Linked DNA regions of Homo sapiens: region 1 is linked to region 2. Evidence: fine-mapped expression QTL. A gene starts in region 2. The other region holds a variant in brackets. All regions are shown on one strand. Distances are from middle to middle. Region 1 overlaps NCOA2 (nuclear receptor coactivator 2). Region 2 holds the start of NCOA2 (nuclear receptor coactivator 2).

Evidence for each region. PIP is the estimated chance that this variant, and not a neighbour inherited with it, causes the effect.
Region 1: its variant is the best candidate, but not a certain one, in a credible set for the expression of NCOA2 in Th1/17 cells (Schmiedel 2018, PIP 0.53).

Annotation. Positions count from the first base shown.
Region 1 is chr8:70,285,034-70,294,001 of GRCh38, forward strand. All of the region lies in intron 2 of NCOA2 (nuclear receptor coactivator 2), which reads right to left. Among named protein-coding and RNA genes, the nearest start is that of NCOA2, 110 kb to the right of the region's middle. RefSeq lists an enhancer at 6,459-7,199. The variant AT/A (reference allele first, on the strand shown) is at 5,151.
Region 2 is chr8:70,400,381-70,409,348 of GRCh38, forward strand. NCOA2 (nuclear receptor coactivator 2) reads right to left here and starts at 3,428. Exons shown (of 23, transcript NM_006540.4): 1 at 3,320-3,428. RefSeq lists silencers at 2,025-2,684, 2,715-3,004, 3,045-3,354, 4,045-4,204 and an enhancer at 3,825-3,944.

The DNA.
Region 1 (8,968 bases), 120 kb before region 2:
GACCTGCTCTACACTTTCCATCTGATGTAGCTACAGGTGACTACCTATAAAAAGGACATGGTCTTATAATATCCTTATATTCATGATAGCTTTTGAGAGCCTCATGCTTAACCATGTTTTATACTTCTTCAACTAGAGGTATTCTTCAAATAGAAAATATATCAGATACAATTTATTAAGGTCTAGTAAGAAAATTAAAAATCAACAAGAATTTACTTAGAGTCCTGTAGATACCCAAGTGTTATGAGTTCCTATCATTTAGCAAATAAATTTACTATGTAGTTAGACAAGGTTTAGAACACAGCATCCACCATTAAGTGCTCACATACTTCAGCTAAGATGATAACCAAGAGTCATTTTCCTACCTTTTGGCACTTGAGTCCCATTAATCAAGATTCCCCTTATTTCTGTGTTTCATTTCTAACTACTCCTGTTGTGATGATCTAAAATAGATGGCAGGTTGTAGCCTTCATAGCAAGATACGCACATGGCGAAGAACACTGAGAGACAGACAGCCATGGGCACAGTGCCCACTGCCCTTCCTGCACTCTATGCCTACTACATTATTGTACATTTGTTGATACACTGCTTTGTAATCCCATTCACGTAACTTAATGTTTGCCATTTCTCTTACTACACCGTAAGATGTGGGTAGGACTATATATATTGCTTCTGTATACCTAAAACATGACTACTTTACTGCATGCACTATCATTGCTCCAGAAATGAGTACAGACTAAATTGAAAAATGCTACCGGTTGGATGGGGAATGAAAAACAAATCAGGGCTTTCATGTAATCAACAAGTTCCATTTGTATCACTAGAGGAGGCTCTATGTCATATCAGAAAGAGATTTTTGGAAATATATAGTTTCAGGTTCAAATTCCAGAACTACCTACCTGACAATATGATTTAATTCATCTCTCTATACCTTAGTGTTTTCAGCTAAAAATGGGGTAAGTTCTCTCTCCCAAGCTACTGGTAAGAATTTGATGAAATAAAAAGCATATTATGCCTAGCAGAATGTAGGTATGCAAGAAAAGTTTCCTTCTTAAATTTGCACTTCTTTATATTCTAATGTATAAAAAATATTTCCAGGCTGTGTACAGTGGCTCATGCCTGTAATCCCAGTGCTTTGGGAGGCTGAGGTGGGAGGATCACTTGAGCCCAGGAGTTCAAGATCAGCCTGGGCAACATAACGAGACTTGTCTCTACAAAAAAATAAAAAATTAGCTGGGCATGTTGACTGAGGGAGGAGGATCACCTCTGCCCAGGAGTTCAAGGTTGCAGTGAGCTATGATTGTGCCACTGCACTCCAGTCTGGTGACAGAGCAAGAAAAAGGAAAAGGAAATATACATATATATTTCCATCTCTGTTTTAAAAAGATGTGGTCAAACCCTTGCTAGAAAGTAAATGAAACAAACTTTTCAAGAGACTTAACCGTGAGCTACAATATAAATACTCAAAGATAAAATTTTAAAGGTGGATTTAACCAGTGATTTAAGAAACAGCATGAATTGCTCAAACACTAAAAACATATTTCACATTATTAATTAAATTATCTTTACTATGTATGCTTAGAAATTGCTTTAAAAGACAAGAGAAAAAGAAAACGGCAGTTGTGAATAAAGTAAATTCTAGGTAGTAAGCAATTAAAACCTCTTTTTGTGTTCATGGTAAATACTGTTAATTATATCACAGATACTCATAAGCAACCAAAAACCCTGTGTATTGATTGTAAAGAGCAGCTGTAATTTCCCCTATATATATTTAAAACAAAACAAAACCCGGGGAAATCTGAGAGAAAGGATGGCCTATTTTTCTTAACATTTTATAAAATAAAAAGGCCATGTCTGTTAAGGTATGATAATCTGAAATATAGTCAAAATGAAACAAAAACTGTCCAATATAAATTAAGGGTTTTTTGGCCAGGTGTGGTGGCTCATGCTTGTAAACCCAGCATTTAGGGAGGCAGAGATGGGCGGATCACTTGAGCCCGGGAGTTAGAGACTAGCCTGGCCAACATGCTTAAATCCTGTCTCTACAAAAAAATACAAAAATTAGCCGGATGTGGTGGTATACACCTGTAATCTCAGCTAATCAGGACACTGAGGCAGGAGGATCAATCTAGCTCGGGAGGTCGAGGCTGCAGTGAGCTATGACTGCACCACTGCACTTCGGCCTGGGTGAAAGAGCAAGATCCTGTCTCAAAAAATATATTAATTAATTAATTAATTAATTAGGTTTTTAAAAGTAATTGAAAGGATTCTCTAGTCACTCTTAGAATGTAGTATTTTCTCTTTTTTAAATTTTTTTCTTTTCACTGCTGGAACAAAAGAATGTACTCTTTTCTAAATCAAAGCTGAAATTTGCTTTAGAATTGAAAACTTTCTTCAACTTTGCGTAAAAAGGTCCTATATAGGCTTCTGATTATGGGAATTCTAAATTACTTTTTAAGAATTTTTTTACTGAATAAAACTTGTGAAGTCATTTTTAAAGAGACGAATCAAAGGGAGTAGGGCTGGGCCCTGTTTTTCCATCTTTCAAAACAAAATAACCATGTTAATAGAAAAGCTAAACACACATCCTATTGAAAGCATTATCTGTGTAACCTCATTTGAAGCCACGAAACAGCATAATATCATTTCTGTAACCTGCATTTCCTTTGTTAATTAATGGCAGATTATCATGTCTGATAAAATAGGCAATTTATCAACTTCATGGACTTCAGTCTAGCTAGTAGCCACAATGATATGAGCCTGCAGACCCTCACTGTAGAGAAAATGGCATACACAGCATTAAGCCTTGTCACAGCCTTACCTATAATGACAAAGTCAGCCTGAAACTTTATTTTGAAAATTACTAGTTAATTCTTTTTTGGCTTTCTCCGTCTTTTGCTTGTTTGTTTGTTTGTTTTAAGAGAACCAAGTTTCACAAGCCAAAAACTGCAAATGCCAGATTGGGCTGGATTCCCAATTTGGCCTCTAACTGGCTAATTAGGTGCAAATCACTGGGCAAGTTATTTAACTTCTCAGTGCCTTTGTCTACCCGTCTTTAAAATAGGATCATAATAGCAGCTACATCATAGGTTTGAGGATTATGTGAATTACTATGAGAAAGGCTTAGAACACTACTTGGCACATGATAAGCACAATAGGCATGCTAGCTATTATAAATGATCTTTCAGTTCCAAGAATTTTTTATTCACTATGATGTGAAAGAGGAAGGGTTATTTTTTTTCCTTTTAAAAATATGGAGGAAATAGGCCGGTGTGTGGCTCATGCCTGTAATCTCAGCACTTTGGGAGGCCAAGGTGGGCAGATCCCCTGAGGTTAGGAGTTCAAGACCAGCCTGGCCAAATGGCGAAACCCCATCTCTACTAAAAATACAAAAAAAATTAGCCAGCATGGTGGTGCGCACCTTTAGTCACAGCTACTCGGGGAAGCTGAGGCAGGAGAATCGCTTGAACCCAGAAGGCAGAGGTTGCAGTGAGCGGAGATTGCGCCACTGCACTCTAGCCTGGGCAACAGAGCGAAACCCTGTCTCAAAACAAAAACAAAAAAAAAAAAGGAAGAAATAAATTACAATATTGGAAATAGATAAACACAGGGCACACACATTACGGTTTAAAGGAACATGCTTCTGCATTTAGGATATGTTAAAAATACATTTAAAAGATAACAGCAATATTTTACAAAAGGCTATCATTTCCTATTTCCAAAAGATACTTTAAAGAGGAAATTTGAACCTGACTTTGATACGCAATATGTCAGCGCACAAGTGCAAATAGTTTATGTGTCAGACAATAAAGATTTTATGAAATTTTGTGAATATTTTGAAGCAGCAGCAACAATTAAACATCTAACCTCTATATTAGAGAAAAAATTTAACTGTTCCCAAAGCATCTAGTTACAAAAAAATCTAAATTCTACTCAGTTAATAAAATAAAATCTACTGTTTTATATTAATAAGAAACTCATCAAACCAATTTGTCCAATAGATGTTTAAGTCAAAGAATTTTATATTTCTATTCTATTCAAATATAATAGCGTAAGTAATCATGATACAGTTTCAAAATACATGAGTTCAAAACTATCTTCTATTTTCATACTCTGTCTTATAACCCAGGAAACAGAAGTGTTTTCTGGACTGTAATAAAACCGCCACTTAAAAGGAAGAATTAGTAATCTAGATCAAATAGCCTTTTTAATGACAAAGAATTGAAAAGTTGAGAGATGAACTGTTTTCACTGGCCACTACTCTCTATATTCTAGAATAAGCTACCAATTCAATAATTATGACACAGCTGTTTCTTTTAAAGATAGTCTTTTATAGTCTAGGTAAAGATTTAAAAGTCTCAGTACTCATATCCAACACTGGTAGGTATCTTAAAAATTTCCCCATTCATCCTTCCACTGAAACTCTGGCCTATCACATCCTTGCTTTCCCAGTTCTTTTCACTTCTCAGGGAAACATGATAAAACCATGCTGGGGTTCTGTCATACTGATAGTTAACAAATTTCCAGACCATTAGGTTGACACTAATGTGTGACTTCTGCTTGTAAAATTTATGTAACTGGCACCAAAAAAGCCAAAACTGTTGGTTTAAAAAAAGGAAGTCCTTAATTCTACTTTTTAAAAAGTAGTGAAAACAAACAATTCCATACACAGTGGCACCACAAAAGCAACCTTGCATGGAAGCATGCAGTTAAAAGATCCTCCTCAAAATTGGACTACATTGATTTAAACTGTATGTTGACTCCCTACTTGGCCATTATTAAGTGCTACACACTTTTTTTTTTCTTTAAGAGACTGGATCTTGCTATGTCGCCCAAGCTGGGGTGCAGTGGCTATTCACAGGTAATCAGGACACACTACAGCCTCCAACTCTTGGGCTCAAGCAATCCTCCTGCCTCAAGGCTCCTGAGTAGCTGGGACTACAGAACACGCCACTGTGCTCAGCTAAATGCTACCCCTACGTATACTTCTTACTTTCTCTTTAATCTTTGTAGATGAGAAGGCAAAATATAATGGTGCCTAGGCCTCAGCTAAATGCTACCCCTACGTATACTTCTTACTTTCTCTTTAATCTTTGTAGATGAGAAGGCAAAATATAATGGTGCCTAGGCCAAAAAATACATTTCCATTG[AT/A]TTTTTTTTTTTTTTTTTTTGAGATGGAGTCTCGCTCTGTTGCCCAGGCTAGAGTGCAGTGGCGCGATTTCTCGGCTCACTACCAGCTCCGCCTCCTGGGTTCACACCATTCTCCTGCCTCAGCCTCCCAAATAGCTGGGACTACAGGCGCCTGCCACCACACCCGGCTAATTTTTTGTATTTTTAGTAGACACGGGGTTTCACCATGTTAGCCAGGATGGTCTCGATCTCCTAACCTCGTGATCCGCCTGCCTCGGCCTCTCAAAGTGCTGGGATTACAGGTGTGAGCCAACGCGCCCGGCCTATTTCCATTGATTATAGACATCCATGAATCATTCATGAAATAGCAAACAAGGCTTAGACAACCTAATGCATGGAATTAAGATAAAAATCATAATTTGCAAAGCTTACTGTTAATTTCTCTGGTTTTCTCCCATTATACTGAGTCTCAAGCTAGCAATACAAGTCAAAATAAATAGAAATACCTATATCCTAATGCTAAAGAATCACAGTAAAATAAAAAAAACTTAATTGCATGGCTATGGATAATTTTATAAATGCTTAATTTAGACCCTTGTATCTAGATGTTATAAATGGTTCAAAATAACATGTATGAATTTCAGCTTAAAAAAAAAACAAAACTATAAGGTGTTTGATGGAAACAGCCTGACTTTACTTGCTATTTTATCTTTAAGGGGATTCTGGCAAAGTTAGCTGACTCAAATTCAGCACCTGCCTAGAAAATAACATACATCTGGCATTTGCCTTCCAAAGTGAAAGTGAACAGCCTAGCTAAAAATCCTACTAACTGACCCAAATCTAATGCCAAGTATTTCAAAAGTTACTGTGGTGGCATTTATGTGAAATTCTACTTGTCACAGACCTTCTCCCTGAAGCTAACAACTGTACCACCCAGACAAGTGGAATATTCAAGTTTGAATTGAACCCTAAGGACCAACAACAAAAACAACAAACAGATATGTATTTTATTAACAATCTATTAAACCACTTATCCCACTCCTATGCATAAATCTCTCCTGTTTTCTAGTACAGAAAGCATAGCTGAGAAATTATGGCCCACCCTAACTTTCTCAGAATATTCTGACACCAGTCCTACCTCCTCTAAACATGCTAACTCAAAAGATTTACACAAGATATGGACTGGTAATACTTTTCATTTTAATTACTTTCAAAGAATACCAGCTATGCCAACAGAGGTCACACTTAGAAATTTTCAATTTAAAAAAAGTTGCTCCCACAGTAAAGTGGCTCTAAGCTAAAATTCAATTCTCTTATACTCCAAGAAACAACATCCTTGTGCATTCTGAAAAAAAAATTAAATTACTGTCTAATTCTAAATACATGATTTCCAACATCATTCTACTTGTCTGTCCATATGAAGACAGCAATGCCATCATGCAGAATGAAGATTGCCTGGACTGTGATTTGTTCAACCTCACTAAGCAAGACACACCTACCTTAAGAGGTGCGTGTCTTCCTAAGAGCACACTCTGAGAGCTCTGTTAACACTAAGTAATAAACAAAACATTTACTAATGATAGCATTTTGTTGTTGTTGCTACTGCTTTAACCTCGATTCACATGGACAGATTAAGACTTTGAATAAGTTGGCCGGGCGGGCGCAGTGGCTCACGCCTGTAATCCCAGCACTTTGGGAGGCCGAGGCGGGCGGATCACAAGGTCAGTAGATTGAGACCATCCTGGCTAACACGGTGAAACCCCGTAGCCGGGTGCGGTGGCGGGCGCCTGTAGTCCCAGCTACTCGGGGGCTGAGGCAGGAGAATGGCATGAACCTGGGAGGCGGAGCTTGCAGTGAGCTGAGATCCACCCACTGCACTCCAGCCTGGGCAACAGAGCGAGACGCCGTCTCAAAAAAAAAAAAAAAGACTTTGAATAGGGAGACATATAATTCAGAAATCAGTGCCCTGTTTTTTGTTTGTTTGTTTTTGAGAGGAAGTCCTGCTCTGTCGCCAGGCTGGCGTGCAGTGGCCAGGTTGCAGTGCGGTGGCGTGATCTCGGCTCACTGCAACCTCCACCTCCTGGGTTCAAGCGATTCTCCCACCTCAGCCTCCCAAGTAGCTGGGACTACAGGCACACGCCACCATGCCCAGCTAATTTTTGTATTTTTAGTAGAGATGGGGTTTCACCATGTTGGCCAGGATGGTCTCGATCTCTTGACCTCGTGATCTGCCGCCTGGGAATCCCAAAGAGCTGGGATTACAGGTGTGAGCCACCGCACCCAGCCCTGAGGCAGGAGAATCGCTTAAATCCAGGAGGCAGAGGCTGCAGTGAGCTGTGATCTTGCCACTGCACTCCAGCCTGGGCAACAAAGACTCCATCTCAGGAAAAAAAAAAAAAAAAAGAATCAGAAAACCTAAACACAATGTAAAAATATCGAACAAGGAAACATGGAGTTAAACTTGCATGGATAGATAATCCTTTTTAATTTAATAATTTTTGGCAACCATTCTTTGTATTTCCTATAGCACTTAGCCTAGGCTAGGGATGGCCTAAGGGTAAAAGGAAGTCAGGAAGAGAGAAAGGAGAGTTAATGGTGCTGAATGATTTAGTTTAATGAGGAAAACTAAGCTAACCGGTTCACACTAATGTGTGCACATAAAAGGAAGAAAACAACAAGAAAAGAGTAAACTGCCTGTCAGTTTCCAACTGCTGGCTTTGTGTCAACAACACCCATCAGAAGATCATTTCAATGTGAGCCTACATCATCCTGAGTTCAGTAGTCCGTTCTGCGTATTAAGTGCAGAGGAGTCTACCCTGTGAGACCAGGATCGTGATTCTACTCTGAACAGTTAAATGACTGAGGGCATTTTGTCAACTTAAATTTTTTTTTTAATTCTACAGATGACAGTGCCTACCATGCTGTCATTTGAAGAAAATACCACAAAAATAGTGATATAAATAAATATGGGCAGATTTTGCCTAAAGCAAAAGATATATATTTCAGTATTCTCAATTTTAGTTTAGATTAATACTGATTTTCAGTAGATAGTGCCCAAAGCCTGATACCTGTACCTCAAATCAAAGTGCCCATATCTTCATGGATACATATACATCCAGTTAAATCAGATATCTAATCACAAATCTTCTCACATCTATGAACAAAGGAGGGATTAAAAACTCCAACAAATATTCATTTGAAATGTATTTCAACCATGTCATATCCAATATGGTCAAAGTTTCTCTTAGGCCTTGATATGCTTAATTTTTAGTATATAGCACTTAGTACACAACAACAAAGTAAACTGGTACTACATGAAGTATATATTGTGTTTTATTGTACAGTGGAGAACTTCTCCCCCATGTTGGTATTTAAGAGTTGGGCTGTACTTAGCATGTGTGAACAATTCACCAACCTACCTTCACCCTATCCTCCCACCCAAATCTTCCAACACAGAGAAAACTTATAAATAAATCCAAGGTCTATATAAATCCACAGTGAGTTCAACTTTCTGTAGTGAAAGGAAAATTACATTTCAAAGCTATATTGCCAAATAGATTTATATAACTCTTGCTCCTGTTTTGATTATCAATGCCAAGTAAATTTTATTGGCTAACTTTAAAAATGCTTAAAATGTGAGACTAGAACGGAAATACTGACCTAGCTGTACATTAAAAATCATAGTTCAGTCTGTTCAATAAGTTTTGTCTTTTTAACTCAAACTACAGAATTCCATTTTTCATATACTCAAATCTGGAATTTGCATTTACACTCATAGATACAACTCTTTTGGAAAGTCTAAGGAAGTATATAAATAATAATATTTTCAAATCAAAAT
Region 2 (8,968 bases):
TGAGAGGTTTTTTTCCCCCCAAGCCAGCCATTAGGAGACTTGGTTCTCTCTGCCACCAAGAATCTTACCACATTTTCAAGGATTGTTGCAAAGAATTAAGTAAAATAATGTGTTGCTCTTCAGCATACAAAAGAGAGAAGGGCATATGTCAGAGTGCCCATAAGTAACTAAATTAACAAATGGTGGGGGGTTTTGAATGTTGTCAAATTTTGAATGTTGTTTTTAATACTCCTTACCTCTCTGTCAGTCTAAGTGTTTGGTTTACCTTCTCTGTTTTTACTATTTTATTACAAAAAACATCTCAAGAGCCACAGCAAAATGCAATTAATTCTTGTCTACATGCACCCAAAATGATCCTGAATTGGGAATTCTCATGGTAAATTTGAAAACACTATATTACAACAGAACACATTTGTAAGATTTGGCAAATACTGTTCCCTAGAACTGCAGTCCCCTTCGATTCTTTCTTAGCAACCCAAGATTAATAAAAGCTTGACTTATAGAAAAGATACACATTTTCCACATAAGATACCTAAAAGAAAACACTCCCAAAATTAAATTCATGGGATACTTATGACAAAAATCAATGAATTCATTCTTAATCTAACACTTTTCATTCTTTGAGCTCCCAAAGATTCTACAAATTCCAGGTGAGAAAGGGAGCATTACTTCTGTCAGTGTGCCTAACCTCACCAACAAAGAACAGGAACACACACACACATACACACACACACACGCGCACACACACATGCTTTGTAGCAGCTGCTTTCTTTTTAAAAGACTGCTATTCCTGCAGAGCAACCTGTGATCTTTACAGAGAATCAAAGACCTCTGTTCCTAAAAGTCAAGAGTTGAGAAAGTCACTTGACTGAACGCGCAATAAACAGTTAAAACCAAAGATGTCTCCAAACCTTGTATAAACCAGAAAAGTACCCACACACTGTACAATTCAGCAGTGTTTAAGAAAATTAAAATTATTTTTAAGAATCTTTTGTGTGGGAGTAATCTGGCAAACTACATTTTACTCAGACTTTTTCCTGTAGACAAATATTCTTTGATTAGCTTTGCTCCTTAAATACCCACACTTAATGTTTCAATCAGTGATGCTTTAGTTCCCAACTTCATTTTGTTTGCAAAAAGAAAAAAAAATGCATACCATAAACCACAACTTTTTTTTTTAATGACATCCCCAATGCCGAAGTTTCAAGTACACTTTGGGAACTGGAGCTCTAATTAAACAAGAAACCAGTGAAGCCATTATGAACAATGATGCTTTCTACTACCAATAATCAGTTGACGTGATACTGCTCCCATGCCTTCATTCTCAGGGTTCCCTTTCAAATTTCATTGTCCCCATTCTGGCATAGCTGAGTGAAACCGAGATAAGAGGTAAACGGGTAACTTCTGTCTTCTGTGACCCTTAGCATGTAAACCGGACGCTGAGGTCCAGGACATGATCACTACAGCATATGCCATTTTAGAAACCGGCCTCGGTGAGTTACTGCCACATCCTAAAGTGGCTTTAGACTTCGTCGTGTCTAAGACAACGTCTATTTCGGTACGAAAGACATACAGGACCTCGAGTGCCTCGGCAGCCTCTGCGGGTCGGAGCCCCTATAAGTGACACAACCCCAGAAATCAAGGAGCGGGTGACTCGGGGATGGACAAGAGTAGCTGGCTCTCAGCGTCTCCATGACTCCCCCGCCCCGCATGCAACTCTGCTCTAACTGGTCAGGAGAAACCCCGCCCCCTTCCTTCCTCCGGTCCGCACGATTGGCTCACCGACACCCGGCAGGTCAGCTCCCTGCCTTCGATTGGCTCACTGCCCCATCAGTCAGACGCACCGAGATTCGGGTCGGTGGGAGGGGAAGGCGTCGGAGGAGGTGGAGAGGGAGTGGGATTAGAGGACGAGGTGGCGGAGGAAGGTGTTCAGGCTCGGTCTCTGGTTTGGGAAAGTTTCCCCTACCAGTGACGGACCCAGAACGCGGGAGGCCCAGTCCAGCTCCGGGCCAGCGGAAGGGGGCTCCAGTCCCCGATTCCCGCCCCTCGGTCCCGCAGGCCCCGGAAACCACTAGAGGGAGGGGAAGAGGGAGGGGCCATCTAACCAGGGACCGACCCACCCCCGGTCTCGGAAGAGGCGCCTCTGGGACTCCCCCGAGGGGAGGAGGCGGGGAGCGCAGCCGGCAGCGACGACCCCGGCCCCCTCCCCCAGCACCCCCCAGGGGCCCGAGAGGGCCGGGTCCCCGTGCCCGGGGCGTGACCGTCGCGAGGCGGCCACAGGGCCCCTCCCGCTTCCCGCCTGGGGCCCCGAGGGCCTGTCCCTTCAGGGGCGGAGAGAAGGGGGCGAGAAAAGGGGGCGCTGGCGAGCCAACCCGGAACCTCCCGGTCCGCCTCCCGCCCCCGGCCCCGGCCCCAGCGCGCCTCCTGCATACACGCCCGCACCCAGAAAGTTCAGTCAGGGGCGAGCCCGGCTCGGCGCCGCCGGGGCCCGGCCCCCGGCTCCCCGCCCCCACCACGGCCCGGCCTGCTCGGCCCCAGCGCGCCGCCCGCCCCGCCCGCCGCAGCTCCTTCCCGTCCGCCCGCGGTGCTCGGCGCCCCTCGCCCCCCACCCCCGGGGCTGACACGGGCCCGGGCCACCCGCCGGGCCGCGGCTCCCCTTCCCCGCCCCGCGCTGCAGCTCGCCGGCCGCCCCGACACCCCGCTTCACCTTCACACACCCCCAGCACTTCCCGAGTCCTGCCTCCCCTCGCCCGGCTCCCACTCTCCGCTGCAGCCGCTCCGCGCTTCCATTAAAGAATGCACCTTCCCAGGATTCACCTTCTCGGCTCTGCCGCGCTGCCCCCGAGGGGTTAGAGCCTCGGTCTCCGCCGACCCCGCACCGGGCTGGGCAATGGGCACTCGCTCCTCGGGGCGGGGGCCGCGCCCGCACCCCCGGCCGCGCCTCGGCGCTCACCTCTCGCCCGCGCCGCGGGCTGCAGCCTCCGCCCGCCTCGCGCTCCGGGACTCGTCTCCTGAGCTCTCGCAAGGCGCTGGAGCGCCTCCTTTCTCTCCCGGGGACTCCGCGTCTCCCCGTCGCTTCCCGCCCTCCCCACCCCCAAGCCCCAACTCCCCAGCGTCGCTGCGCCTCCGGGATGCAACTCCCGTTTTCCGCGCACTCCGGCGGCGGTCCCCGCACACAAAAACAGCCTCTCGGAGGCGCACGGCTCTGTCGGAGCTCGGCGCAGGAAGGGCAGTCGCGGCCGGGGGTGGGGACGCGGCGCCCCCCGCCTGCCGCCCGCCCCCCGCCCGCCCTCGCGGCCCCGGGGGAAGGCGCGGTTACCGGCTCGGGTCGGTCACGCCGTCAGGTGCCGGCTGCCGTCGGCGCTGACCTTCGCCGCCGAAGCTGTAGCCGAGGCTGCGGCCGCCATGTTCCCGTGTTAATAACTGCTGCCTGGTTGTTTATTTCAATGGAGATCCTCCCCCAACTCCCTCCTCCTCCTCCTCCTCCTCCTCCTCCTCCGCGTCTCCGCACTTGCGGAGAGACAGACAGCGCGAGCTCGCGAGCAGGGGAGGGGGCTCGGGAGCCAGGCCGTCCCTCCCTCTGCCTCCCCGGCAGTGGCCGCCGCCAAGTCCTGTCACCGGGAAAAGGACGGGGCGGAAACTTGCCTCTCGCGCCCCCGAGGAAGGGGCAAAGGTGGACGCAGGGTTGTCCGGGGAGCAGCCCCTGGCCGCGGGGTCCGCAGCATCTCCGTCGGCAGAGTCCTCTGAGAAGGCGGCCCGGGGAGAGGTGAAGAAGAGTAAGGGGACAGGGGACAAAATGGGTGACTGTGGTAGAGGGAGGGTGACCTAGAGGTGACTGGAACTGAAGAGAGAGTCAACAGAGGACTGCATGGGAGGGCAAAGGGCAATGCCAAAAAGAAAACTAGCGACTGGGACGGGCCTGGGCCGCTGAGTTAGAGGCAGTGGGGCCTGGGGGCTGCAGACGGCAGGGACGGTGCCCCAGGACGAAGATCGGGGAGAGCCGAGTTCCAGGGTCGCCAGCAGAGGACCCTCGCGCCCGTCCGGCCGGACCCTTCGGCCAGCACCCTGCACCCCCTCGGGCGCACCTCACCCTACCCAACTCCCGGTCCTGCCGCTGCTCCCCGGAGGCGCCCCGCATCCGTCAAGTCCCCTACGGCTCCAACAGGGAGAGGCTTCTCCCATTGCAGTCCTAGCTCCAGAGGGGATGGAGAGGCGCGACTGTGGGAGCTGGAAGGGGCACCACCCGGCAATTGCGGGATAAAGCAAATGCTGCACACAGAGTGTGAAACTTAACCTGGTTGAGAATTTTCGGCACATCATGAAATCATAAGTTTGTATTGGAAAGTCCATTCTCTAGACATCCGTGAACAAAGTACTGAGGGGACGTAGGAGATTGGCACTGAAAATGCGAGAACCCCCATTTAAGTGTTACTTAGACCAATCTGTTTTACGCTTTGGAAAAGCAAGTTTTTTTTCCAACTTATACGGTAATTAGTTGAAAAAAAAAACTTTTGTTTAATGGCAGTTATCAAACTATGAGAGGAACATATTCCCTGATTTTAATCTTATAATGAGAAAGGTCACTTGCGGTAGACAATAAGAGTGTTTATTGAACACTTACTGTGAATCTGACTGTGCTAGGTGATGTATATATGCTATAGGCCTTAATCCTCAAACCTTCCGAAGTCATTGCCGCTTTTCACTTCACACAAAAAATTGAAGCTTAAAGTAATTTGCCCAGGGTCACAGCCAGTAGTTGGAGAGGATGTGAGCCCAGTTCTGGTGAGCTCCAAAGCCCATGCTTTTAAACATGTCTTCATCCTAAAATTTGTGGGTGTACCGCCAATTTTATTTGGGAAAAGAATAAAAAAAATGTGTGGGGTGTGTGTGTCTGTGTTTGTTTGTGGATAGAAAATGCTTGGAAGCCTATAACAACAAATGTTAGCGCTGGGGAGTGTAAGAAGTGGGTGATGAGGCACTTCCACTTTTTATTTTGCACACCTATCTAATGTTTGAAATGTTTGCATTGACTATGTATTAATGTATATTTTTAAAGGTTTTTTTTTTTTTTTTTTTTTTTTTTTTTTAGCTAGCTGGAATAATAGAATTATGTTCCCAAAGCGTTGAGAGGAAATGGAGAGTTTGTTTATGGCCTATCTTCTGCTAATACCAGTCTGTAGCTTGTCTACAATGGGGTAGTAGTCACCTGAGGTTTGTCACAATTCTGAACTCCCGATTTGCTTTCCTGTCCTCACCCCCAACTGTGAGTTATCAGGAGTTGTGATAATAAATAAATAAATAAATAAAAATTTAAAAAAAAGATTCTCCTTCTTGCTTGCTATCCCTCCCATTTTGGCAGAAGTCCAGAGTCTATCAGTCCTCTGCAATCGTAGATTTCACACTTTTTAAAACTACCCATGATACCTCTGCAAACAAATGACTCCCCCCATTGCATTCCCGTATTACCCAATAAAACGTCTTACGACGGCTGAAGACTTTTTCTTACAAGAAATAAACAAAAACGTCTGACAGCATAGTAGATGAGTTCCATGCCCAAGTGCTACTCAATTGCCTGAGCTTGAATTGAATTGTGTGACTTAAACGCGCTCTGGTACAATCTCTGGGTGCCCTCTGAACTTCAGGCTCTTGCTGTAACAGTAGTCTGTCTTGCACTAGAGTTGTTTATATGTTTGTCTTTCTCTTTCACTAGATTGTAAGTGCAACAGAGCCCAAGACCTAGTCTTGTTCTTGTTTGTACATGCTATAGCACCTAACAAGGAATGTATGATGTTTGTTGTTTCATTGAATTTGTGAAATATAAATAATAGTATCTATTCCGATCCTCATGTCCTCTTCCCCACCTCATCTTCCAATCCCTTGCTCATAAAACATGTTTATAAAAAACATCTTCCATACTTAGAAAGAACTTTGATTCCCATGAGACCTCAGAACAATTGTTTATTAAAACTAGCCATAATTTTTAGTGAATCATCACTATGATAATGTAAAATGAAAAGGTAGAGGAGGCGGTAAATAAGTTGGCTCAATGACACAAATTAAGAAAGGAAGAAGAAGGAAAGAAAAAAGAAGGCAAAGATATAGGAACTAGGTATATTACCAAGAGAGAACAACAAGGAAAAAATATGTGGGTGCAGATCATAAAGGGGAAGGAAATTATTGAAATTTAGTGGAAGTAGAAATAACATACCGTGAATGGATGAGGCAAGGAAACACCAAAAATGTCAGCAGAATCATAAATGCAGCATGGAAAAGTAAAGAAAATGACAAATTATATATTTAACAATATAACCTAGGAATAATCAGAACAATATGACTGCTACAAGACAAGAATTTCTATTTTTGTCTGCCTTTTCTTCCACAGTTTTCAAAGTACTCACTTTTTTCATAAGTAAACTGCATAAAAGTGGGAGATTCTATACTATTTTTGAGTTAATACTACTAGCATACATCATGAGATTAGAGGTAACAGTATGGTAAAAAAGAGCTATAGAATATAAGCAAATAAATATGATGTGAAGTGGTCTCTGTAAGTTACTGTGTGACCTCAAACAAGTCACTAAATATCGCAATTTCCTCATCTGTGTAATTGTTGCAAGACTCAAAATGGTGTAAATAAATGTACTTTGTTAACTATCAAGCTCTTTATACAGATGTAAGGGAATATTATTATGTCAGCTAATATGTAGCACAGTTATCTCTGTTTTGGTGCATTCCTAAATTGCCAAAGCAAAAATCTATAGTTCATTCTATTAAAATGTAATCATAGGGTGGGGGCGTCAGTTAAAACATTTGTTTGTCAATTTGATTATTGAACGACTGTGATGAAATGTTTCATTCTTATTGTTTGCTCTCTTCTAAATCCCTTAAATAGTATAACTACAATAAACAAATGTCTAATATAAGTCAAGCATATTACATAAATTTTTTCCTTACTGAAGTAGTCATTGTATGTATATTATTCTCATTTTATGTACAATAAAGCTGAGCTTCAGAGACTTCAAGTAAATTAATGCAAAGTCATAGAACTGCCTTCGCTGCATATCTAAGATTGTGTTAGGATTCTACTCTTCATCACTTGTATTTCTACTACTCTGAGAAACACATTGGCTGGGCGCAGTGGCTCACGCCTGTAATCACAGCACTTTGGGAGGCCGAGGCAGGCAGATCACGAGGTTAAGAGATTGAGACCATCCTGGCCAACATGGTGAAACCCCGTCTGTACTAAAAATACAAAAAAAAAAAAAAATTAGCTGGGTGTGGTGGCGCGCTCCTGTAGTCCCAGCTACTTGGGAGGCTGAGGCAGGAGAATTGTTTGAACCGGGAGGCGGAGGTTGCAGTGAGCCAAGATCGCACCACTGCACTACAGCCTGGTGACAGAGCAAGACTCTGTCTCCTAGAACATAATGCATACTCAATAAATGATCATGAAAAGAATGAATAAATGAATGAATGGGCTCCCTTCAAGTCATACTGTACACTGTCACAGGATTGATCCCCTCAGTCTTATTTTGTTACTTTCCCACTTGAAAACACTTAATGATCCTTCATTAACTATGGAATACAATTCAAATCCTTCATCTTAGATTAAGAACCTCTTTGATATACCCCCTCTATTCATACCTCCCTTATTTCTCCCCCTCTATTCATACCTCCCTTATTTCTCAAGCAAAAACAAATATTAATACACCCACACTCATTCCAGGGTATTCTGAGTGAGATTGACATGAGTTTCAATCTTGGCTCTTACTAACTGGGTGAACTTGGGCAAGTTATTTGGCATCTCTGCAAATTTTATCAGTGCAATAAGACAAGAAAATGAATTGGAAGGAGGTGAAACCAAACTTATTCACTAATGATGATATAGTGTACGTACAAAATTCAAAAGAATCCATGAACTACTAAAATGAATGTAGGATCACAAGGTACAAGGTCAATTGTATTTCTTCTGTATGTTAGCATGAAACAACTGGAAAATGAAAATTTTAAAATGCCATTTACAAAAGCATTTTAAAAATCAAAATTCAGGAATAAATTTAATGAAAGATGTCACATGATCTCTACATTGAGAAAAAAATATTGCTAATAGAAATTCACAATGGCCTAAAAACAGAAATAGACTGGGCACAGTGGCACATGCTTGTAGTTCCAGCTACTTGGGAAGCTGAGGCGGGAAGATCACTTGAGCCTAGGAGTTGTAGACCAGCGTGGGCAACATAGCAATACTGTGTCTCTTAAAAAGTTAATTTTTGTGTGTGTGTGTGACATGACCTTACTCTGTCACTCAGGCTGGAGAGTGCAGTGGCACAATTACAGCTCACTGCAGCCCTGACCTCCCTAATAGTCAGGAATACAGGTGTGTGCCACCACACCCAGCTTTTTTTTTTTTTTTTGGATTTTTTTTTTTTTGTAGAGATGGGGTTTCACCGTCTTACCCAGGCTGATCTTGAACTGCTGGGGCTGAAGTGATCTGCCCACCTAAGCCTTCCAGAGTGTTAGGATTACGGCATAAGCCATCATGCCAGACCAAAACATTAAATTTTTAAAACAAGAGATGGGACCAGGTATAGTGGCTCATGCCTGTAATCCCTGCACTTTGGGAGGCTGAGGTGGGAGGATCACTTGAGGCAAAGAGTTTGAGACCATCCTGGGCAACAGAAATGGGCAAAAGGACTCCATTTCTGTTTTAAAAAACAGTATTAAGATGTCATCAGTATTAACATGTCAACACTTAGCAAATGGATCTATAGATTCAATGCAATCCCAATCAAAATCCCAGCAAGCTTTTTAAGTAAAAATTGAGGTCTAATTCTAAAAATTATATGCAAATACATATTACCTAGAATAGCCAAGACAAACTTGAGGAAGCATGAGTTGAATGACTTACACTGCCAGCTTCAATATTTACTATAAAGCTACACTAATTAAGACAGTGTGATATTGGTGTAAG